3 separate regions of the Homo sapiens genome follow, and regions 2 and 3 are each linked to region 1. The links come from fine-mapping of genetic effects on plasma protein levels. Region 1 holds a variant in brackets. A gene starts in each other region. All regions are shown on their forward strands.

Evidence for each region. A credible set is the group of variants that fine-mapping cannot tell apart. PIP is the posterior inclusion probability: the model's chance that the variant is causal. Protein levels are from antibody-based Olink assays in UK Biobank. Linkage for the fine-mapping came from a reference panel and not from the study's own genotypes, which makes the PIPs less certain.
Region 2: BOC starts here. The variant in region 1 is the best candidate, but not a certain one, in a credible set for the plasma level of the BOC protein (UK Biobank, PIP 0.61).
Region 3: it holds the start of VEGFD, and the variant in region 1 is the best candidate, but not a certain one, in a credible set for the plasma level of the VEGFD protein (UK Biobank, PIP 0.66).

The regions. Positions count from the first base shown.
Region 1 is chr15:101,524,776-101,532,957 of GRCh38, forward strand. LOC124903567 (a long non-coding RNA gene) reads right to left here and starts at 3,599. Exons shown (of 2, transcript XR_007064784.1): 1 at 3,542-3,599; 2 at 1,990-3,085. RefSeq lists an enhancer at 5,544-6,202. The variant G/A (reference allele first, on the strand shown) is at 3,680.
Region 2 is chr3:113,203,816-113,211,997 of GRCh38, forward strand. It overlaps BOC (BOC cell adhesion associated, oncogene regulated), which reads left to right and starts at 7,742. Exons shown (of 20, transcript NM_001378074.1): 1 at 7,742-8,182. LOC124909486 reads right to left here. Exons shown (of 2, transcript XM_047449436.1): 2 at 3,582-8,182. The coding sequence ends at 7,740. RefSeq lists an enhancer at 8,103-8,182.
Region 3 is chrX:15,379,305-15,387,486 of GRCh38, forward strand. VEGFD (vascular endothelial growth factor D) reads right to left here and starts at 5,109. Exons shown (of 7, transcript NM_004469.5): 1 at 4,553-5,109. The coding sequence starts at 4,642. It overlaps PIR (pirin), which reads right to left. Exons shown (of 10, transcript NM_001018109.3): 10 at 5,495-5,812. The coding sequence ends at 5,700. The region is part of intron 9 of PIR-FIGF (PIR-FIGF readthrough); the gene reads right to left.

The sequences.
Region 1 (8,182 bases):
GAAGATGGAGACCATCCTGGCTAACACGGTGAAACCCCGTCTCTACTAAAAACACAAAAAATTAGCCGGGCGTGGTGGCAGGTGCCTGTAGTTCCAGCTACTCAGGAGGCTGAGGCAGGAGAATTGCTTGAACCTGGGAGGTGGAGGTTGCAGTGAGCCAAGATCATGCCACTGCACTCCAGCCTGGGTGACAGAGCGAGACTCCGTCTCAAAACAGAAAACCATAACATATTTTTAGTTTTTTCATGATTAGACTGTGGCTTTCACAGACAACTTTTTGATATCCCCCCCATGTTTGATTTACCTTTCATTTTTCTCATGGACGAAGAATAACTGCCTCTTGATTGCGCTTCTCTGTCTTGCAATCTGTGCTGTTTATTTATCTGTGGACATAGCTTCTAACTTGTCACTCCATACTCCCATTTGTAACTGCCAGGGCTGGAAGCCTATGAACTATATTCCCAGCTTCTCCTGATGCAAGTTTCCGGCCAATGAGAGGCACTGGAGGCTGGAAGGCTGGATCATGGGAGAAAGCATGTCCCCTTCTCCAGCTCCGGGAGCAGCTGGCAGCTGAGAGTGACTGCAATCTGCAGATTGGTGGTGGGTGTCACAATAGTGGCGGAGCTGTTGATGTTTAGGCTCCGTAGCAGCGGCCAGAGGGTAACTCCTGGTTTCTGGATGAGGGGCAATCGTGCTCATGAGCTCTCGTAGCTTCACTTTCCATTTCATTCTCCAGTTCTATAGGGGGTCAGTGACCTCCTGTAGCTGCTGCTCTCTGAGTGCTATGGAATGAATGTTTGCGTCCTTCCAGATTTTTATGTCAAAGCCCTGCCCCCCAATGCAACTGTATTTGGAGACAAGGCCCTTAAAGGTAATTAAAGTTAAATGAGGCTGGATGTGGTGGCTCATGCCTGTAATCCTAGCACTTTATGAGGCCGAGGCAGAAGGATCACCTGAGGTCAGGGGTCTGAGACCAGCCTGGCCAACATGGCGAAACCCCGTTTCTACTAAAAATACTAAAATTAGCCAGTCATGCTGGCACATGCTTGTAATCCCAGCTACTCGGGAGGCTAAGGCAGGAGAATCGCTTGAATCCAGGAGGCCGAGGTTGCAGTGAGCCAAGATCACGCCACTGCACTGCAGCCTGGGTGACAGAGTGAGACTCCGTCTCAAAAAAAAAAAAAAAAAAAAAAATTAAATGAGGTTTAAGGATGGGGCCCAGTCTGGTAGTTTGTTCAATTTCTTTTCAAAAGAGCATTGTTTTTGTTTTTGTTTTTGTTTTTTGGCATGAGGTTGTAATCGCTGTGTGCCTGGGGTCGGGAGGCTGACTGACAAGGCAGCTTCCTCCACAGACTTCCAGCAACAGTCCTGCCCTGGCTGCGCTCCTCTCCCCCAGGCCTCCAGGCCACCAGCTTGCAGCCTGTGCTCCTCTGGGGAGGGATCCCCCGCTCCCCCACTCCCAGCCTCGCCCTGACAGTGATCCGAGTTGCGGATTTTGGCTTTCTCCTCCATCCTCACCCGTCCAATTGCCCTCCAGCTCACAGAATCATTTTCTCAAAATTTTCAACTGCTAATGACCCTGTCACCAGGCCACCTGGCAGGGAAGCCCACTTGTCCCCTACCAATAGGCCCATGGTGTCTTGGAGGCTTTCCTGGTCTCCTGGGACAAGACAGCTGCCCGGCTTGTAGCCAGGACTGTGCCTGTAGCCCACCTGCTGTAAGGTCACGCCTGCAGGCCCTGAGTTTTACCGGCAAGATCTAAGTCAGTTCTCTACCAACACCCTAAGGCAGGTACTACTACTTTCTCCGTTTAGAACTGGGGAGAGTGAGATGCAGAGAGCCCCTCCCCCGACCCTAGGCAGAGCCCGAGACTCGCCGCAGGCTCATGCACTGTGCCACCTGCCCTCCTGAGGCCACGCTCTTCTCACGGGAGGTGGCCCTGTGGCCTCACCTGGGCCGGATGGGAATTGCAAACTTGAAACCACTACGTCTTTTTCCCTGTTTTTATTTTAAAAAGGATATTAAACGAACATATCTTTTAAAAATTAAAGTGAATTGAAGTTCATTTTCATTTTATCCTGAGAGGTTCACAGTAGCTCTTGAAATAAATGAAAGTGACTTTAAACGGGCTTTGTTTTGAGGTGATCTCAGCAGCTCTGAGGATACGCACAGCAGTCTTGGAGTCTCACAAAACTCGGCTGGAAATCTCTGGCCCCAGAGGGAGGAAGATGCTTCTCTATTTCTACCTGAGGCCTTCCTTAGGCTCCTGGTCAGGAAGGGAGAAGAGACCCCGGGCAAGGGGTGAGAAGTGGGGGTGGGGGAGTCTTGCCCCTTCCTCTGGACGACAGAGCCCATTACTAGAGGGAATTTCAATGGTGTTTCCAACCCCAGGTCTCACCCAGGAAGGAGGAATCTAAACAAACTCAGCTGCCAGTGGCTCCCCCATAGCGACAGTTTGAGGCCGGATTCACTGAAGTTTTCACAGATGAGTCTAGGTAAAGTTGTGGGGGTTTTTGCTGTTGTTTTGTTTTGTTTTGTTTCTTTGAGACAGGGTCTCAGTCTGTCGCCCAGGCTGGAGTGCAGTTGAGTGATCTTGGCTCACTGCAGACTCCAACTCCTGGATTCAAGTGATTCTCCTGCCTCAGCCACCCAAGGTGTGAGCCACCATGCCCAGCTAATTTTTGTATTTTTAGTAGAGACAGGGTTTTGCCATGTTGCCCAGGCTGGCCTTGAACTCCTGAGCACAAGCGATCCGCCCACCTCAGCCTCACAAAGTGCTGGGATTACAGGCATGAGCCACCGTGCCCAGCCAAAGTTGTGGTTTTAAGCAGGATGTTCCAAAGTCCAGTGGTTATGACCAAACGCCACACAGAGACAGAAGCCTCCCGCACAGCCCCAACTCCCAGCAGCCATGGTGTTCCAGGTCCTCCAAAGTCAGCTTCTCCTCCAGGAGGCCACTGAGCTCCCCAGCTGCGGGGCTGAGGCCACACAGCCCTGTGCGGTTCATCTGCCATCCGGGCCCTTCTTCCTCTTCTGAGCTTCACAGTTAGCCCAGGGAAGAAAACAGGCGTGTCTTCCACAAACCCTGAAGGGAATGGGAAGTGCCAACAGTGAGAAGGACTTAGATGTAAAGGATTTACACACGGTCACGGCATTTCCACAACCCTCTGGGCACCTGAGTACACGTGTGCAGACACACCCCCAGATGGGGGCGAGGGGTGGGGTGCCCCAGCTATTCACACCTAACCATGAGCGTGTGAGGCAGCAACACTTAAAGGCCACTTGCTTTCCGCAGCATCTCGATGGAGCAGGAGCCTGCCTGGGGCATCTCCAGGCAGCTTGGCTGAGCACCCAGGACTGAGTGCAACCCTCAGCGTTTACATTTTTTAGTACTATTCACTAAGAGAGAGAGAGACAGAGAGACAGTGATAGAGACAGGGAAGGACAGAGACAAAGAGAGCAATGGGTGAAGAAAGAGCAAGCAAGCAGGGATGTCGGACATTTCACACAACGCAGTCACCAGGGAGGCAAGAACACTTACAGAACAGTTTGAGCCAAAGAGTCACTCAGGGACAGGAACAGCAATTTCTTAAATATTTAAAGCAGACACCCTGTGAGCGGCTGTGGAGGCGGCTCTTTGTTAATATTTAACACGAGCTGGGCAGTTGCCGGGAAAACA[G/A]CTGTTTACAGGAGAGATTAACCAATATTCATCATTGCTCAAAGCTGTGGGGAGGCTTCAGGGGACAGGCAGCTGCCGGTATTTCTAGAATACAGCAGCTCAAGGCCACAGGGCTGGGGAGGCTCACGGTGTCCCCAGGGTGCATGAAAACTGTAAACAGGCAGTTCGGGGTCACCTACCCTGCTCCAGAATCACGGTTTGCAGGAAACCCAGCCCTGCAGCTGGGCCTGGGTGGTGGCTGCTGGCCGGCCAGCCAGCACCTCGCTGGACAGCTGCGTCCCACAGTCCCAGGCTGGGCTGTCCTTCAGGCCCATCCACAGTCCCAGGCAGACTCCTCGTGCACTCCCTGCATGAAGTCGGGGGCAGGTGCTCGAAAGTAGAGGGGTTCCCACTGATGGAAAGTGTCACCAGCCTGCCTGCGAATCCCCCAGCTCACACTTGGGCTTGCAGGGACACCAGCCAGGCCGTCTTGCAGAGAAGACAAGCTGCCTATTTTCAGGGGCTATGAGTCTTGTTCATGACAGTTTTCTCCTCTATGTGCCAAACATTCAAGAGCCTGGCCATTTTCACACAGCCCCATAGCCTGGGTGAATCAGGCCTCACTCCCCTGTACTTCCTTCCAAACATTCTATCACTCCCAACACCCTCCACCCAGGCCTCATGGAACTACACACAGATCACGCTTGGGCCCAACTGGATGCGGAATCCCAGCTCAGGACCAAGGAATGCTGCTGCTGTCTCCACAATGCCCTAGACCTGCAACCCTGGGCGCTTCCTGGCATACCACTGCCCACTCTGCCCACACCACAGCTGACTGACTCCTAATGGCTCTTCAAACAGTTGTTTGCACACCTGACCATTTATTATAAAGGAAGAAGCGCCGAACAGCACGTGCTGCTCTGAGGAATCTGTACAAGAATTGGGGCTCTGCGTATTAATCTTTGCTAAAATGAATTTAGTTTGGGTATTTAGGTTTCACAGCATAAATATATTTTTCTCTACTCTGAGACCAATTGGCACAGGCTGTCTAAGGCATTAGAAGAACAGTCCTTAATCTTTCTGTGTTCACAGCATAGTTCTGAATACCAGAAATCTAGAGGAATGCTTGAAGAGGTTTTTAAAAAATTAAACAACATTAAAGGAGTCAGCAATGATTTCCATCTCAGCAAAACAGGGGCCCTCAGGGTCCAGAAACATCCATGGCCATTGAGCAGTCACTTGGTCATTCTTGTGGATGCTTTTTTTGAGATGGAGTCTTGCTCTGCCACCCAGGCTGGAGTGCAGTGGCGTGATCTCGGCTCACTGCAACCCCTGCCTCCCAGGTTCAAGTGAGTCTCCCGCTTCAGCCTCCCAAGTAGCTGGGATTACAGGCATTAGCCACCACGCCTGGTTAATTTTTGTATGTTTAGTGGAGATGGGGTTTCACTATGTTGGCGAGGCTGGTCACGAACTCCTGACCTCAAGTGATCCACCCGCCTCGGCCTCCCGAAGTGCTGGGATTACGGGCGTGAGCCACCACGCCTGGCCTTCTGGATGCTTTTTATTTTGTGGTTATGCAGCATCAGGACAGCCTTTTAACATTTGAGAAGTGAACCGTCTTAGTGGGAGGCAAAACCCTGCTTCCCTCTACAGAAGCCTAAAAGGCCAAGAACGTGCACTCCCTGACACCGGTGGGGGGTAGCAGGGCTGTGCAGCCACATGCCCAGGAGGCACGGAGACTTCAGGGTCCGTCCCCCCATTCCCAGGTGGCAGAGCAGTGCCCCAGTGTCCTGGGTGCGAAGAGCAGTGGCTAGTGCATGCTCAGCACCAGCAGTGTCCTAGCCACATGTCTTGGGGCTATAGCTGTGGCCACTTGGCACCTCCAGGTTCCTGACCCTTCCCCACAGTGACTCAGCAGGGAGTTGTCTGTGAGCCACTTGATACCCTTTTACAATATTCCCTTTCTGATGATTAACCAGAAGTGCTTTGCAGGCGGGAAGCCTGGTGCGCACAGTCAGGGTCTGCCCTGTGCTGCTGCTTGAGGACTGTCTCCTGCCCTGACGGTGCTCTTCAAAGCTGCCGCGGGCCTGCTTGATGTAATGCTCACTTCTGACCTCTTTGCCCATGCAAGGCACACCCTGCCCTGCCGTCCCTCCCACCCCCTTCCTCCTTGGCATTCTGATGGACTCAGTGGTCCCCAAAATTGCACACATCAATTAAACCAGCAGCACACTCATGGAGGGCGGGTGGCGCCCTGGGTGCTGCTGTGTGCCAGCTGTCAATCACCGTGGGCTGGAATGTGGATTACAAGCCTGGAAGGGGTATCGCGCACTCAGGGTTTAGCCACAGTATACAAACGGCTTTTCCACCTTTCCTGTCCTGAAGGCCACAGCAGGGCCTGCTCTGCTCCCTGCGGCAGTGGTCCTCATGCTTGGCCAGGTGACTAGGCATACTCGCAGTTACTGCAGGGCCACTGTGTCCCCGGCTGAGCCTCGTGCCACAGAGAATTGGTCAGAGAAGAAGGCGGCTTAGAGAGGGTCCGGTTGGCCTGCAAGCCTGAGCCCCTGCCCAGGTGGAGATTAAATCCTTGTTACCTGATGGTATTGACGCTTAAAATTAAAACTGAGTTCAGTTACTGAAAATAGAGAAAGGGCCACTTCTATGCTCCTGAGATCGGAAGTGAGGTTTATCCCCCCGGGGATCTGAAGGATCATCCACTGGGCTTCCCTAAAGCGGCATTGTGTCATTTCTCCCGGCTAGGAGAGGTCTCCCCATTCTCAATTCCCGTCACTTATTCTCACTCAACAGAACCTCTCAGAGCACCTACCGTGTGCATGAGCCCAGTGTCGATGGGCCACGGGCCAGCCAGCCTGGGACGCGTGTCCAGGGCAGCTGGGATTTGGACTCTACTCCACGAGGCCACACAGGGGAAGGGGAAGCCCAGACGGCTGTCAGGGCATTCTTGGGAGCCGGGGGTTTGGAAGGGCTGTTGGGCGTGCTGGGGCACCGGCTAGGCTGTGGGGTGGTGACTCTCCTGCAGCCTTGGGGGGCTACCCTGAGATCATCTGTCACCCCACTGCTTGCTGCTCACTCCTGATCCCGCATTCTGGCTGTGGGCAGAGAGCACTGCCTGCCACATGCTGCGACCCGTGGCCCCTTCGCCAGTTTAATTTTCTTTTGTGCCCGTTCCCCCCTCAGCGTTCTAGTATTTTAATGTGTGTCCTTTTATTTGCTTGTGTCCCAGTATAAGACACACTATTCTATTTTGGTTTCTAAAATTATTTCTTTACTAGATTGAACCTTTTTAATTTTATTTTTATTGTGGTAAAATATATGTAACATAAAATTTACCATTTTAAATATTTTCATATGTACAGTTCAGTGGCATTAAGTATATTCACACTGTTGTACAACCGTCACTGCTATCCACCTTCAGAGCTTTTTCATCTTCTCAGTCTGAAACTTTGTTGCCATTAAACACTAACTCCTCATCCCACCTCTGCTCAACCCCTGAAAGCCATCTTCCTTCCTTTCTTTTTCTTTCCTTCTTTCTTTCTCTTTCTCTTTCTTTCTTTCTTTTTCTTTCGCCCTCCCTCCCTTCCTCCCTTCCTTCCTTCCTTCCTTCCCTTCCCTTCCCTTCCCTTCCCTTCCTTCCTTCCTTTCTCTTTCTTTCTTTCCTTTTTTTTGAGACGGAGTTTCGCTCTTGTTGCCCAGGCTGGAGTGCAATGGTGCGGTCTCAGCTCACTGCAACCTCCACCTCCTAGCTTCAAGCAATTCTCCTGCCTCAGCCTCCCAAGTAGCTGGGATTACAGGCACCCACCCCCAGGCCCAGCTAATTTTTGTATTCTTTTTAGTAGAGACGGGGTTTCACCATGTTGGTCAGGCTGGTCTCGAACTCCTGACCTCAGGTGATCCCCCGGCCTTGGCCTCCCGAAGTGCTGGGATTACAGGGGTGAGCCACCGTGCCCGGCCCCCACCATTCTACTTTCTGTCCCAATAATTTTGACAACTCCAGGCACCTCACATACGTGGAATCACAGAGTATTTGTCCTTTTGTGCCTGGCTTATTTCACTCAGCATAAGGTCCTCAAGGTCTGTCCCTGTTGTAGCACCTGTCAGAATCTCCTTCCTTTTCGAGGCTGAGTCATCTTCCCTTGCCTGCGTAGACCACGTTTTGCTTATCCACTTATTCCTTGTCACTCAGTACTGTTTGGTACTCTTGACCTACATAAGGACTATTTCACTCTTGGCCTCGATGGGTTTCTATGTTCACTCAGCACCAGAACCTCATAGTAGTTTCCTGCCTCTGTGCACATCTGGGCCGTTGCTTCTAATGGGGACCTGGCGTCCCGGGGGTCCTCTGCACCTGACTTCCCCTCTTACCCGTGACACAGGCCCCCAGCCTGGGACGCTCCTGCCGCAAGCCTCAGTGTGCAGGTCTCGTTTATCATTATCTGTGTTTCCGCATTTTATGTTTCCCACCCTTCTTGCTTCCATTTGGCTCTGTTACGGTTCCTCTGTCTG
Region 2 (8,182 bases), not on the chromosome of region 1:
GGCACAGTTTCACATGCAAGGTATTGGGACCACCAAGCCTCTAACAATTCCATTTTCTAGTTGATGAATTCAACAAATAAAAGGCAAAGAATATACAGCTGTTTTCTGATTCTCAATGAGAGAGGTGGCAGGGAGGCTTCTACAACACCACCAGCCCCAGAATCTATATTCTTGTCAATTCCTCTCCCTTCCTCATGGCTCTGCCTGCAGGTCCACAGAGAGCTTCCAACCACTGTCCAGGGAGGCCGGTCAACCTTCCCTCCATGACCAGAACTGCAGAGCAGCTTGGGCCTCCCTGTTAAATTCTGCTTGTGAGTGGAGGACTTGAAGAAGTGGGGTAAGGTGGAGTAGGGTCAGGCATAGTTAGGTTTCCTGATGCTGTGGCCAAAAGTCTCAGAGAATCGCAGGTATCTTATGAAGGAGAAAGAAAATAACACATGTAGAACAAAACAAGATGGCATAATACCTGCCTCAAAGCTTGCAGTGGCAGCTTTGGCATTAGATTCTGCCCAGCTCAGTCCCCAGAATATGGATTCCCCTCCATGGAAGCATCTCATTGCTAAAAACCCTTACAAGATGTGTGAGAAACTTCTTCCCCCTTAAATGGCTGACTGAACAAATTTAACGGAGGCTGTTATCCACTGAGTTTAGTATCAAAGCTCTGAGATCCAGTTCTCTTTGAGTTTTTGCTTTCATCTGGAATCTTGCGCCCCTGCCCTCTTTGCTGCCGTCACTGCACAATGTCAAACAGCTGGAGTCTGGGCAGCACCAGAATCCAACTGTCTCAGCCTAACAAGTGAAGGGATGGGGGAAGAACAGATGGCGGGAGATGAGGAAGGTGGGGGTGTCATGGAGGACGAAAGGGGGCTGTGCTTGCTTTAGAGAATCTGATATCTTGGAAAAGTGGTCTCACGTGGAATTCAGTGTCAATAGATTCTATTTGTCTAGGGCTTTGCAAAATCAAGCACACAGAAGTGGCCTTGGACTATTCTATTTTTCATTTCTCTAACCCAGCTTCACCTCTCACTCAAACTTTTACTAATTTTCCCTCCATTTATTGAGTGCCTACCAAGGGTTTATATATACATATATACACATATATATATGTGTATGTGTATATATATGTGTATACATATATATGTGTATATATAGAGAGAGAAATAGTACATATATATTATTTCCAATATTCACAGAAACTAGGGTTTAGGGATGTAATTAATTTGTCTAAGCTCATGCAGCTTATTTAAGACTGGATTCAAACCCAGGTTTGTCTTGATGCCACAATATTCTTTTTTTAAAAATCTCATCCTCGGCCAAGCACAATGGCTCACGCCTGTAGTCCTAGCACTTTCGGAGGACGAGGCAGGTGGACCAGTTGAGCCCAGGAGTTCGAGACCAGCCAGGCCAACTTGGAGAAACACTGTCTCTACTAAAAATACAAAAAATTAGCCGGCCTGGTAGCAGGCACCTGTAGTCCCAGCTACTCCAGAGGCTGAGGCAGGAGAATGGCGTGAACCGGGAGGCGGAGCTTGCAGTGAGCCGAGATCACACAACTGCACTCCAGCCTGGGTGACAGAGCAAGACACTGTCAAAAAAAAAAAAAAAATCAACTGGGCATGGTGGTGTGCGCCTGTAATCCCAGCTACTCAGGTGGCTGAGGCAGAGGTTGCAGTGAGCCAAGATCACACCACTGCACTCCAGCCTGGAAGACAGAGTGAGACCCTGTCTCTAAATAAATAAATAAAATATCATTCTCCCCCTGGGGTACACTTGTCCATAGGGAGCCTTGTGGGGATCTGGTGATTAATTCCTAAAAGTCAACGGAACATATAGCCAGTAGGAATGCCTGAGTTGACAGCCTGGGGCTAGAGAAGTCAGTCCCAGCCAGTTCAACTTGTATAAGGAATAGATGGCATCATACCAGGCTCACCTGTAGTTCTGCCTGAACCATGCAATTTAGGGTTTAATTATACGCTGTCTTGCATTGTTTCTACTAATTGTTGCATAGGTCAATCTTATACTTTCATTCATCATTCTTCCTTCAGTCAACAAATATTTTAGAGCAACTGGGCATATTTCTTCTCCAGCAGCCCTTGCAATACCCAGCATAGAACGGTAAGCCAACTCAGATAACTAGTTAATGGTCCAGTCAAGAGCAAATGAGGGCTAATTTTCCTAATTATAAATTAATGGATTATGTTATGCATCTTGAAATTGTACTGAGATATTGCCTTAATAAATAGACACTTTATACACTCAACAGCTTGAATTTTAAAGCAGAAAGTTGGGTTCATGAATATCTCATTTCCAGTATCATTTATCAAGATAAAATGTCTTTATCCAAATATAAGCTTTTGAGAATAGTTATGTGTACAAAAGCCAATTTACTAATATTGTTAAAACTGTGAATTTTGGTATCTCGTTTATTTGTTTTTTTTTTGTTTTTGAGATGGAGTCTCGCTCTATTGCCCAGGCTGGAGTGCAGTGGCACGATCTCAACCCACTGCAACCTCCCGCCTCCCGGGTTCAAGCGACTCTTCTGCCTCAGCCTCCTGAGTAGCAGGGATTATAGGCATGCGCCACCACGCCTGGCTAATTTTTGCATTTTTAGTAGAGATGGGGTTTCACCATGTTGGTCAGGCTGGTCTCAAAACTCCTGACCTCGTGATCCGCCCCCCTCAGCCTCCCAAAGTGCTGGGGTTACAGGCGTGAGTCACCGCACCTGGCCGGTATGTCATTTTTAATCTTAACCCATACATCAGAACTCCATTCTCTTCCTGTATATAATATCCTTAGACTCTTACATTAGTTACAATTAGTAAGTTACCTTAGTTCTTGGAATGCACTTGAATGTCTCTTTCGAAAAAAGAAAAACACTCCTTGGAAAGCCCATAAAATACTTCTTAATGGCTAGACAAAATTTGGGCATTTTCTAAACAGTTTTTTTTTACTGCAAGAAGTAGCCTGCAATTCATGAAATAGTTGTGAAGTAGTGTGTTTCACTGGAAAAATCTTGGGTTTGGAATTCTTACCACCATTTAGTTGTTGGGGATCTCAGGCATGTTATTTAATTTTCCTTATCTATAAAATGGAGATAATTGCACCTATATAGCACAAGGTCATTATGGGGATTCAAGATGGAAGGTACACACAGAATCCAGGAGAGAAACTGGGAGAGGAAGGTGCTCAATAAACATTAGCTTATTTCTCAGAGGCTTGTTGAAAAGGTTAAATAAAATCATAAATATGATGCAGTTCATAGGGTAAGCAATTAGTGCCCAGCTCTTCCCATTGGAGTGTTGTTTCCACTAAAGTGAATATTTGGCAGTTGTTTTCTTTATTGTTCAGTGTAATCATTCAGACTAGATAATTCAATCAAGTCTTCACTTGGGACCTTGTGTTTGATGATCTCATTGTTGTTTTTAATTAAAATAATCTGAGAGATGGAAATGTACATTGGAACCACTGGAGGACAATTTTGTAATACCAACTAAAAGCATTTAAAATGTTATATCCTATCCATTGATCCCAAACTCCTACTTACATGAATTTACCCTTAGGAAATAATCAGAACAAAAAGATTTATAGCTAGATGTTTAGTCAACTGCAATACAGGATGATAATAAAAATGGAAACGATCTAAATATGTAACAATAGAAGAATGGTTGAATAAATAACAATCTCTCTCTTTGATGGGATAGTACACAGCAGTTAAGTCAAATTTTGAAGATTACATATGGGGAAAATAATCATTAAAATGTTAAATTTAAAAGCATGATAACCTGTATGTACAATGAACCCAAATTTGTAAAATATGAAAGTACCAGATAAATCAATGAAGAAGCTGGCTCCTGCCTGAATTACCAGATGCATTAAAAATTGTATAAAATATTGAATAAACTCACCCCAATTATGTTTCCCTTTAAATGTCTTTCAATTCTGATTCAATTAGAATCATATACTCAGTGTCGATAACGTGTTTATTTGTATTGATGAGAAACAAAAACAAGAAAGAAAAATGACTAGAAAAAACACTCCACTATGTTAATAACAATGTTATCCCTGGGTAGTAACTTTAAGTTGATTTTCTTCTTTTATGTGTTTTTCTACATTTTCTAAATTTTTGTCAGTGCACATATTTTATAATCAGGAAAGCAGATTTATATTAAAACAGAGGAAAACATCATCAAGTCCTTCTTTCTTGTCTACATCTTAATAATTTTCTCAGCATAATCCTCTCCAGATATCTTTCACAGTCAAAGAGATCCCTGTTTATATGATACAGGTAGAGTATCTACAGCACACTGAGAGGAAACCACGTCTTTTCATGTCATTCACTGAATTCCTTCCAGTTTATTCTGCACAGCCTAGCAACATAGTGACTTATATAGACCTACAATCCCTACTCACCTCCCCACTCCTTCCCCCGACCAAGCATTTAAATTAATGTGATGATCACTTCCATACCAAATGCTTCCTTCTTGGTGGAGGCCCATAACATTTCCAAGAAAGCAAGGTGCTAGAGGTAAATCACCATCAACAGAACGGACAGTAGCAAAAAGCACCTTACAAGATCCAGACTCCACCTAACTGTTTTGAAATGGCTAGAGATGCTGGAATGGGTTGGGGTGGGTTAAGATAGAGAAACTAATTGAAAGGGGAGGAGGGAATTAGGCAAGAAATACCCTCCAGGCAAAATGGAGTGGGGAGAAAATTCAGATACGTTGTTCTTACAGGACTAGTAGTAATAAACACAATCACATTAATACAAAGAGCAATAAAAACAATAAACATATCTGAGGTACCAACAGTGTGCTTGATGCCGCCAGCAGAATTAAGTCCTCTTTATTAAGCTGTGATCTGCATTCTGCCTAAACTATAAGAAAGGTGAGCAGCAGGCCGGGAGCAGTGGCTCATGCCTGTAACCCCAGCACTTTGGGAGGCTGAGGCGGGCTGATCACCTGAGGTCAGGAGTTCGAGACCAGCCTGTCCAACATGGTGAAACCCCGTCTCTACTTAAAAAAAAAAAATTAGCCTGGCGTGGTGGCAGGCACCTGTAATCCCAGCTACACGGGAGGCTGAGGCAGGGAGAATCGCTTGAATCGGGGAGGTGGAGGTTGCAGTGAGCTGAGATCATGCCACCGCACTCCAGCCTGGGTGAGAGAGCCAGACTCCATCTTAAAAAAAAAAGGAAAGAAAGAAAGGTGAGCAGCCTGCATGCATGAAGGAACAAGGCAGTGTGTCATTCTCCTGACTAAATGGTGCTGGTAGGGACTGTTACATTCTTTGTGTTCTGTTGTGTTCTGATGCTTAACTCAGAGCCTAGGGCTGTGTGGACCCAAAGACCAGAGTAAGAGAATGGAGAGTCCTAGGAGAAAGATGACAGAAGGGGTAGAAGATATCTTTGAGATGTCAAGCAACGAATAGTATATACAGGAATATAAAAGAATGAATCTGAGACCTTCATGCATCACGTTCTCATTGAGCGGTACTTGGAATCATCTTTGAAAAACAGAAGGCTGGATACGCTGCTTGGGTCCCTGGGGAGAAGGAGTGTTATCACTGCAGAGGAAGCTGGTTGACCCATTCCCTTGGGGGAATTAAAAGTTCTGTACCCAGGGTGGACCCCAGGCCTTGTAGTCCAGAATTGTGCCTTGGAAGGAGGACAAAAGAAAGTGGAAGCTAATATAGTCAATGACTGGAAAGAAAAATAGGTCTTTGAGAATGTTGGGGGAGATTGTTAGAGATTAAAAGGGAAGGAAAATTAGGATGATTAAGTAGGAAAAGGAAATGTAGGTGGATAATGCACAGAGAGAGTTCAGAGTCCTTTTCACCTTCTTGCTGAAAATGCATCATCCTCCAGATCCATTTTGCCAGAGGAACATGCCTAAGAATCCAGGCACAGAGCTGAAAGTACTCGATAAATCAAAAAGGAAATTGGCTTCTGCCTGAATGACTAAATACCGGAGAAAAAATAGTGCAAAATATGGAATAAAATACATTTATGTTTCCTTTGTAAAGGTCTTTTGGTTCAGATTCAATTAGAGTCCTATACTCAGTGTAAAGTATGTATGTTTACTGACAAGAAACAAGTTAATAAAAAACAAAACAGGGCCGGGTGAGGTGGCTCACGCCTGTAATTTTAGCACTTTGGGAGGCCAAGGTGGGCAGATCACTTGAGGCTAGGTGTTCAAGACCAGCCTGGACAACATGGTGAAACTCCGTCTCTACTAAAAATACAAAAATTAGCCGCGCATGGTGGCAGGTGCTTGTAATCCCAGCTGCTTGGGAGGCTGACACTGGAGAATCTCTCGAATTCAGGAGGCAGACTTTGCAGTGAGCCGAGATTGCACCACTACACTCTAGCCTGGGCGACAGAGTGAGACTCTGTCAAAAAACAAACAAACAAACAAACACACACACACACACACACACACACACACACACACACACACACACACACAAAACCCCCAGAGGCCCAGAAAAGTTAAGTGACTTTCCAAAGTCACAGTGGCTTCCTGACTCCCAGTGCAGCTGTCCAGCCACACAGGGAAGGCAGCACCCCCATTCACCCTACTACTAGCCTGGCTGTCTTATTTCCAGGACAGCTTCCTCACCAGCTTGGCACAAACTCCCAGTTCACTTTAAACAAATGGCTTAGCCCTGCTGGGACTTGGTTTTCTCAGCTGCAATGAAGATACGGAATGGATGACCGCTCACAACCTGTGCTTCATTCCTAAAAAATAAGAAGGGAATCCAATTTGCCACCAACTCAACATTTGCCTTCTCACTGCCCTGGAAAGGTAGTTTTTAAAACGTGGCCCCTGACCTGCAGCATCAGCATCACCTGGGAACCTATTTGAAATGCAAATTCCCAGGTCCACCTACTGAATCAGAAACTCTGGAGGTGGGGCCCAGCAAAGGGATTTAGCAAGCCTTCCAGGGAGTCCTGCTGCAGATCAAGTTTGAGAACCACAGCTCTGAAAGTTTTCTGACCAACACACACGCGCGCGTGCGCGTACACATACACACGCATAGGTAACTAACTTTTCCGTGGCCACTAGCACCCCCAACCCATGCCCCCAACCCCAGCCCCAGCTCTCCCTCCCCATTCCTCCCTGGCTCCATCCTGGGATGATGAATGGAGGTCAGGGCGCTGTCAATGGACGACGCGGCAAACCCTCCCCAACCGACCGAGGGGGTCGGGGGAGGCTGCGTTAAGGCTTCCCTGAGATTGGTTTCCTTATCATTTTCTCCACCGCCGCTGTCCCATTTTCTGATGAGTTTGCTTTTAATGATTTATCCAACAGTTTGTCTTGCAGAAGAAGAAGACCATTGAGAGGTGGGTGTCAGGAAAGTCTTGGAAGAGACTAGGCGAAAGGAGGGAAGGATTGTACATGGAAGAGCAAGGGTGCGAGGTGAAGCTAAAGAGAAAGTGAAGGCTTCAGGGGAGCCCCCTGGGTTCGGGGAAAAGGGAGAAGATGGTGCTTTTGGTATGGGAAAGCAAAAGAAGTTGGAGGAGAGCGCGGGTCTGAGGCACAGCAAAAAGTGGGTGTTAACGGGAAAACTGCCCTAGAGTTTGGGGGACTTTTTCCAGCTTCCTTTCCAAGACTTTTTCTTTGCTCCATTTTGCTCCTCCCCCTCCTCCCAGCCTCCTCCACTCCCTCCTCCTCCTCCTCCTCGCACGGTAATGGGAGGCTCCTAGGCAGGAGAAGCAAAAGAAGGAATTGTTTGCGAGTTCAGTCATCCAAAAAGCTTCTTCCATATGGAGGGACCGGGTGCGCTGGGCGCGGCGTCCCCTGCGTTGTCCTCCTGCTGCCGCCCCCGCGGCCGCCGCTTTCTGCCGCGGGGACCCTGAGCCCCGGCCCGCCGGTGTCAGCCGCCGCGCGCGCGCACAGACACACACACAGAGACACACAAACACACACAGAAAAGACACACACGCGCACACACGGCGCGCACACCCTCACGCCCGCCACAGCCACAACACGCCCGCACGCGCCCTCCCTCTCCGGCCCGCAACTTCTCGGTCCTCGGCTCCTTTGTTGCTCCAGCCGCGGCCGCTCGCCCGTGTTGTGTGTCCCCGGTGTCACCGAGCGTGTTGTGTGTCCGTGCGGCGCGGCGCTGTGTGGCTCCCTCGCGCCCACCACGCTGGCCCCCGGGCCCCGGCTCGCCCTTCCCA
Region 3 (8,182 bases), not on the chromosome of region 1:
ATGCCTAGATATATTGGTGCCCAATAAATACCTGTTGAAAAAAATAAATGAATGAATTGTCAAATATTGGAAAGCTCTAATGAGAGACTAGGCAGATTCTTTATGAACTAGGACATCACAACCAGCTAAGGCTTTCATGATGCAGTAGCAGGGGGCCTCAGGGTGTGTTTGCTGTATAATGCCCTAGTGTCTTGGTAGGGACTGCAAGAACTAGTGGCAAGGAAGACAGAAGAGTGAACTTACCACCAGAAAAGCAAGGGAAGAAGAAATGCTTCCATGTCATCTTTGTCTCATCTCAGTCACATTCCCAATTATATACAGTTTCCACTCTCTCTGTTCATCCTAAGTTGTAGAAAAAAGTTGAGCCTAGAAATGTTCTCAGAAACAATTTTACTGTCATTTGTGTGCCTATTTCTGTAGCACCTCTATCCAATTGTGGTAATAATAAATGTATCTGGGAGTCCCAGATCTTATTACCTCAAGTTCTACATGGAATCATGTGTGTGGACAAATACTATATTCTCATTCCAGAAATTGTCTCTGGGATTTATAGTAAAGGTTTATCCACAGGTCTAAAACAGGATTTTTATGTTAAGAAATAAGTCATACAAGGAAGTACTATATTGAAGATGTAAGATATTGAGGATTCTATTGTATCCTGGGTACCAATAATACGCTATAGTGATATAAAAGTTTCAGTCACCAGTTATAAGTGAGTAACTGGATTAAAACAGATGTGTATAGAAGCATATAATTCAACACACTTAACTACAAGGTCATAAATAAAGAAGAAATTAATGGGAAGTATTTCAGATGTCTTTTGTGCCAAGGACTGTGTCTGACAGAAAAGTGGACAAAAGCTTGCTGGGCCATTTGACCAACATCAAAGTCAATGGACTTCCCTGTACATGACTTTGGAACTGGAAATCGGGCAGGGAGAAGGAGTGGGACTGCTTCCTGGAATTAAATATGGAAAATACACCTCAGTCCTTGTTATTTGATTCACTGTAGAGACAATTTCAGGAGAAGGCAAGTAACACAAATGTAAAGAAGTCTTGTGAGCCATGTGGCTTCTCATGAAAGAAGTATCCCACATTCCTGTGGATCTTGGACTGATTCTAGTCTTACACAGAATGTGAATGACTCCATCACCCACCAATATTCTTCTACCAGTGTAATTAAGAAAGAGGGTGGATAAAAAAAGACAGTACACAGGGAAGATAAAGCAGAAAGAAACAAATTCTGTCAGAAAAAAGTTGTGAAAGCCTACTATGGCCTGGTATTCCTTTGTTGCAATAGTGACATGTCTTCATTAGTGACATTGAAAAGATTTATGAAGGCTGGCTTTCCCCAGCATCTTCAGAAGACTCACAGAATTTCTGGGGGACAAGAATTGTTTATTAAATAAACCAGAAATAGTGCTGGCCAGAAGGCCAATGTGAATGAGAGAAGAGTGAGGATGTAGATACTTATTTACCAAATGTCCAGAGTGTCTACCACATTGTACTTAGGGCTGTCACATACAGATATGTCTATATGCATGGAGCACCCTAGAGTTGTGCAGTGCACATCGTGTACAACTGTATATGACTGTCTGAGCTGTATTAAAAAGCTGGAGAAAATAGAAACAGAAATAAATTCCACATCTAGGCCGTAATCTGATTATATTAATGAACGATGCATAGGTACTGGGTTAAGCTTATTTCTAGAGGAAAACGTGTTCTTCTTAGACTGAGAAACTTAACAGCTAAATAGTATACACAGTGGATTTGAAATCTTAAGTTGAGATTTTCAAACAGATTTGTCTCAGTTCACATGTTCCATGCACTGCTGACTCCAAACAGCTATCCTTGCAAACACAAGTGGTAAGACTAATGAAATTAGGAGGCCTTACACCCAAATGGCATTAAGCACAATCGTCCAGAGCACTAGTAGCTATTTCATGATTGCTACAGGAAAAAAAAAAATCTTCACAGATACCTAGAACTATCGTAGAGGCAATGCTAGTCTAAGCTGGAAAACTGGACAATCTTCAAAGCTAGAAAGTGAAAACTGGGCTGGGGGTGGCTGGAGGACAACCTAGGAGCAAAATTGGCATCACCATCCATTCTGGAAAAGAGGTGGTTAGAAGAGGGGAGGGTGAGGAGAAAGAAATACATATGGACCAAGTACCGAGGAAGACCATGAATTTCTTATAATAAATAAAACATTTTATTTCAAAAAGTAAAAAAAAAAAAACAAAAAATTCAAATACCACCACCCTAAACCATTACCACCATGAATATGTTTTCACACTACATTTTAATTTTAACAAGAAGAACTTTAACATTTAGAAACATTATTTCCTCTTAGATTTTCTTTTCTTAAAAGTTGGGGAAAAAAGAAAACTATAACCAATATTATATATCTCATTATCCCTTACCACTCAGTCATATCTATGCCAAAACTTCTGTTTAGCTATAGGCAATCCTTTCCTTCATATCAGAAATAATTTAATTGAGCGAGGGGTAGGGTGGATATAAGTTCAGTATATGTAGCTTCACTTTTTAAAGGAAATTCTGATATATTCTGAAAAAAAATTGCTAATCGTATTAGTAAGTATATAATGCTGCATCCTCCACGTGTAACAACTTGTTTTCTGTCACATGCAAATTCAGCTGCTTTCCTTCGTTACTCCATTCAACAAATTTATATATTAACAGTACATTCAAAGCATTTAAAACTTCACAGTGCCAGCCGGGCGCGGTGGCTCACGCCTGTAATCCCAGCACTATGGGAGGCCAAGGCGGGCAGATCATCAGGTCAGGAGATCGAGACCATCCTGGCTAACACAGTGAAACCCTGTCTCTACTAAAAATACAAAAAATTAGCCCGGCATGGTGGCACGTGCCTATAATTCCAGCTACTCGAGAGGCTGAGGCAGGGGAATCACTTGAACCCGGGAGGCAGAGGTTGCAGCGAGCTGAGATTGCATCACTACACTCCAGCCTGGGTGACAGAGTGAGACTCCGTCTCAAATAAATAAATAAATAAATAAATAAAACTTCACAGTGCCCAGGACACCTGAGACATTCTTGGTGCTTGTGCTCTTTGAAAGAGCTGAGCAACCTAAAGAATATGACTTATGTCCAACAATTCAGTCTCCTTTATTATACCATCAGATAAAGTGATGTTTTACAAGGAAAATGGAAATATTTTAAAACTCGAGGAGCCCAGCACATCTAAAGGATTTCTGTTTCATGAACTTACGAAAAAGCTGGACAGTCGGAAAAGTCTTACTTGCTTCAAACAAGTCAGACCGTTTTCTCCTGTTACCTATGCTTACAGTCAGATTCCCATTTACCTACAATCTGGCCTTGAGATCCAATATCAAGGCTGGTGGCAGTAAAATGGAGCCAAACACTGTGATTTCTCCCATGTAAATTTGGAATTTGAGAAGTTAGAAAAGTGCTGGCTGCCAGACAAGGTGACTTCCCACTCACCTCCAGCTCAGTGTTCAACATTTTTAAATATCAGCCCCCACCCTCGCCAGGCCACCAACACCAGCCAGGAGCCTTTGAAGACACTTTCCCCCTATGCAATTTGAATGTATAACGTATTTTAAACTACATACCATATGTACTGTATGTACGTCTGTGCGTGATGTATCAAAAGGGTAAAACTTTTTCATCCCTCCACGAACCAATTTTCCCCTGCTGGGGGCGATATCACCCCTGTTGAAAATGCACGTCCTAAACAACAGCTACAAAAACTCAAACTCACATTTAATTGTCTTTTCAAGGCCAGAAGTTCCTAAATCAATAATGATTTAGCACCACTTCAGTCAAAACAATTACATCCGAATCATTTTCAAAATAGAAGCTTAAAATATATATAATCCATGAAATGCATAAAATTGGGCTAAGTATTGTTCCAGCAGTCAGCAACATTCTGGTTAATTTTTTGCATTACTCTCTGTTCGTTAAGCTCTATTTGATGCTTGCTCACAGAACCAAAGATTTGATTAGTGTTGAATTTTACACCTTTCAAGAAGCGAAAAAACCAAACACTCTCTGAGAAAACATTTTTCTGGATGGCAGCAATTGGTAATTTGCAAAAGCAGATAGAAAATGTTCATAGAAAGCACTGCAATTTTCAATTTACCAAACGAATAAACTAACCTCTGCTGCTCACAAAGACCTGAAAATAAATGGCCCACAAAGTTATCAGTCATAAAAACAAATCAATGTTTCATTAAAAAACCACTGTGCCATCTGCATATGCAACCGAGGAGAAACTTCTCCATCCAAAAAGATTCCAGACTGCTCATGTTCTACCATAACTTCAAAAAACAACCAACCCCCACCCCAGCATTTTCAAATACTCATGGCCAGAAGTTTAATAAGACTAAGAAACAGAACAGTCACCAAGAAATGCAGGATATATCCTGTCCAGTCCACTACTAGGATGGTTCTGCATTTTTATATTGTTTCAAAAATAGTGAGGGCAAAGAAAGTCCTCTGTATGAGCCAATAAAAAGAACTTCATCACATTAAAAATTGAGCTCACCTACCTTCACTGGTCCATGTTCATTACTGGAGCCCTGCACCAGCTGGACGTACAACATCATGAAAACATTCACCACTACCCACTCTCTGTACATTTTGAATATTTCAATATCCACTGATTACTAAGCAGTTGACATCAGGCAGCTAGAGAAAATTGTTTCAAAAGGCATTCTCCAGAAGGAAAGTTTGAAACCTCAAAACTTCACACAGAAAACCAAATAATCAGTTCTGATCAAAATCCAATGAAATTATTTCAATTAGGCAAGGTACGCTTTTTTTGCACAATCTTAGGGGTGGGGAGAGAGAGATGAAAAAAATCAAAATGTTCTCCAAAAATAATCAGAAGGTGGACATGTCTTCTACCTGAAATTAGAAAGCACTCTAAATTTACTTCATGTCCAGAAAATTAAAAAAATCTCTCCAATGTATGCCGCAGGTTCTAGTTGCTTTGTAAGGAGGTGGTGTGGCCACCAATGCTTACAGCTACAGAAAGCTGGAACCCAACTCTGGATTGAAACTTTTTTGCACAACCTTCATGGAAGCTTGCAGAAGCATGTGTCTTAAATCTGACACAGATTTTGGCAGAAAATGCAGAGAAGTCTTGGCTGTAATCCTGTTGCGTCCCTACCAATAGCAGGGCAGTTTTAAGAACTGACTCAAATGTTCAGGGCTGCCGTTATTTTAAAGCAGATAACCTGTAACATGAAACCCCAGCACATAGCTTTGACCTTTGTATCTCAGTGGGATTGCTTAAGAAGGGACCTCAGATGCTCATGCATCTGCTGCCAATGACACACAGAAAGCAATCAAATATGATTTTTAAAACCTGCACATGCACAAAAATAATAAAAACATCCATCCATACATGCAAAAAAAGGCAAACATACACAAAACGACTTTTTAAACAGAAGCTTAGTAACTTAGGTATCTCAAATGAAAAACACTGATTTTTAAAGAAACAATGATTAGGTTTATTTGCATGTGCCAGGAAATATCCTACATTTATTGTTACAAAAACCATGTTATCACGTTAGTGTGGAATTCTTTAGAAGCACCGGCTAAATAAGCTTTAGAAATGGAATGCCTTCAATGGCTCAATCTCAGAAATGGCAAAATTCTAGGACACATCAAGACCTGCTCTTCCGCTTTCCACTAGTTCCCAATCTTTGATTTCCAGGTTTTGGCCCTTTCAAACCCATTTTTTGCGTTTCTGAAATCAAGAATAGCTTGAGAAATCTCTTCATTGGTGTTCATCACAAATGGACCTAGGGCAGAAAGAGACATTCAGAAAGTTCTGGGTGGCAATATTTTCCTCTACCACTAGAAATGATATATATTTCTGTAGTTCTTAATTTAAAACAAAATCCAAGCACATCCGAAGAGTAAAAGTTTATTTTCACAGTGTTCAATCCCCAAGGACTGTAAGATGAGTTTCTTGACTAGGATTGTATATGATTATTGATTATAAAGACGAAACTTCAGATAAATGCAATGGCATCTCACCCATTCAGTATAGGTTTCTCACCAGCAATGGTGATCTTTTTTATTAAAAAGAGTCTTAGATTTGGTTCTATTACAACCAATTTTGTAGTTATTTTTATAACATTAGCTGATGTCAAGAATTGAACCCATCTGATACAAAGAACTGACAAATCTTATCATAGCTTTGGTGTCTAAGCAGCATATAAGGCTGTATACTTATTTGAGGATTCTAAGTCATTTTTTGAAAATCAGCAGCACCTATTGACAATAAACAGAAGATTATAAAAATTTCAAGTCGAAGAGCATCATTTTTTAAAAGTTTTCTAGGGGTTGGCAAATGTTTGCTAGGAAGGGCTAGATAGTATGTATTTTAGATTTTGTGGGTCAAACAGTGTCTGTCTCAACTACTCAACTCTTTCATCAAAGTGCAAAAGCAGCCATAGATAATGCAAAAGTGAATAGGTATGGCTGTGTCCCAATAAAACTTCATTTACAAAAACATGCAGTGGGCAGATGTAGCCCATCGACCATAGTTTGCTGACCCTTTTGTCTAATTGCTGGGTCTGAACTCGGATTTTGCTAAAAATGTACAAGAAGTCCTCCCCTAATCTACCAGGAGGCAATGTGTGTTTCTTCCCCTTTCTTCATATATTGTAGGGGCAGAGAGGCACTGGACTGTCTCACCCCCATGATCTGCTAGATGAACAAGGCCAGCTTTTATATGGCATTGACAGTGTCTTTAGAGCAGTTGACAGACTTGTTCACTCAGTGTATGTCCTCATCCAGCCTGCAGAAGTTCCTGACATTCCTTTTATGGAACTGCCTGCTCTAAGGGGCTTTCTCTGGGAGATTCTGATTAATATACAACTGTATTGCTTAGAGAAAATAACATATTCAAACTTCTTAACCATTGTTATCATATCAACATGGATTTGGTGATCACTATAATTTAAATCTTCAGAAGGAAGACACAGGATAATATGTCTTGATGATGCTGAAATCTTTGGAGAGGATGTGGGGAATAGAATACAAGTAGAAAGAAAACACCCAGGCATCTAAATCCATTCATTCAATTACCTATCTATTATGTACTGAATGCCCATTAAATGACAGACATTGTGCTAGAAGCTAGAGACATAAAGATGAAAGACAAATAAATGGCAGACTCCCTCTCCTCAAGGATTCAAATCTATCACACAGATATGAAAAGAAATCATTACAAAACTGTTTGAAATATGGAAGGATAAAAGTGTAAAAACTATAAAATCAACACAGAAAGGGGGAGGAGGAGAAATCCAGGAAAGGATTCACAGAGGGAGTGATGTTTGAGCAGTCACACACGGAGGAAAGGCATGTTCAGGCTTAGTATGCTGGAGGAATACTGGAGGGGATAGGGGTACAGTGGTGGAAGGAGGGATCAAAGGCGGAAAAAATGGCGATCTGAAATATAGGAAGAAACCAGACCCTTCTGGGCTTTGGATGCAATCTACAGGAAGAAGTTTGGACCTACTTTTGCAGGTGATTATGAATCACTGTAAGGTTAAGTAGGGAGTAATATAATATGATTTATAATTTTTAAAGAAGACTTTGGCATCAAGGTAGAAGAGCAGGTGTCTAATTTGGGAGGCTGAGTCAATGGTGGAATTGTTAAGGGTATTTGAGATACAGGACGTGGGAGGCTTTGGATGGAGCAAGGTGTTCAGTTCTGGATATTTTTTGTTTTGTTTTTCTTTTCTTTTCTTTTTTTTTTTTTTTTTTTTTTTTTTTTTTTTTGAGACCGAGTCTTGCTCTGTCGCCCAGGCTGGAGTGCAGTGGTGAGTGGTGCGATCTTGGCTCACTGCAACCTCCGCCTCCCGGGTTCAAGTAATTCTCACACCTCAGCCTCCCCAGTAGCTGGGATTACAGGCACGTGCCACCATGCCCGGCTAAATTTTTGTATTTTTAGTAGAGATTGGGTTTCACCATGTTGGCCAGGCTGGTCTCAAACTCCTGACCTCAAGTGATCTGCCAGCCTCGACCTCCCAAAGTGCTGGGATTACAGGCATGAGCCACCGCGCCCGGCCCAGTTCTGAGTATTTTAACATAGAAGTACTAGAGACAATAAAGTGGTTTCCCAAGCAGAGGTTTTTGGTACATTGTTGAAACTATGGATC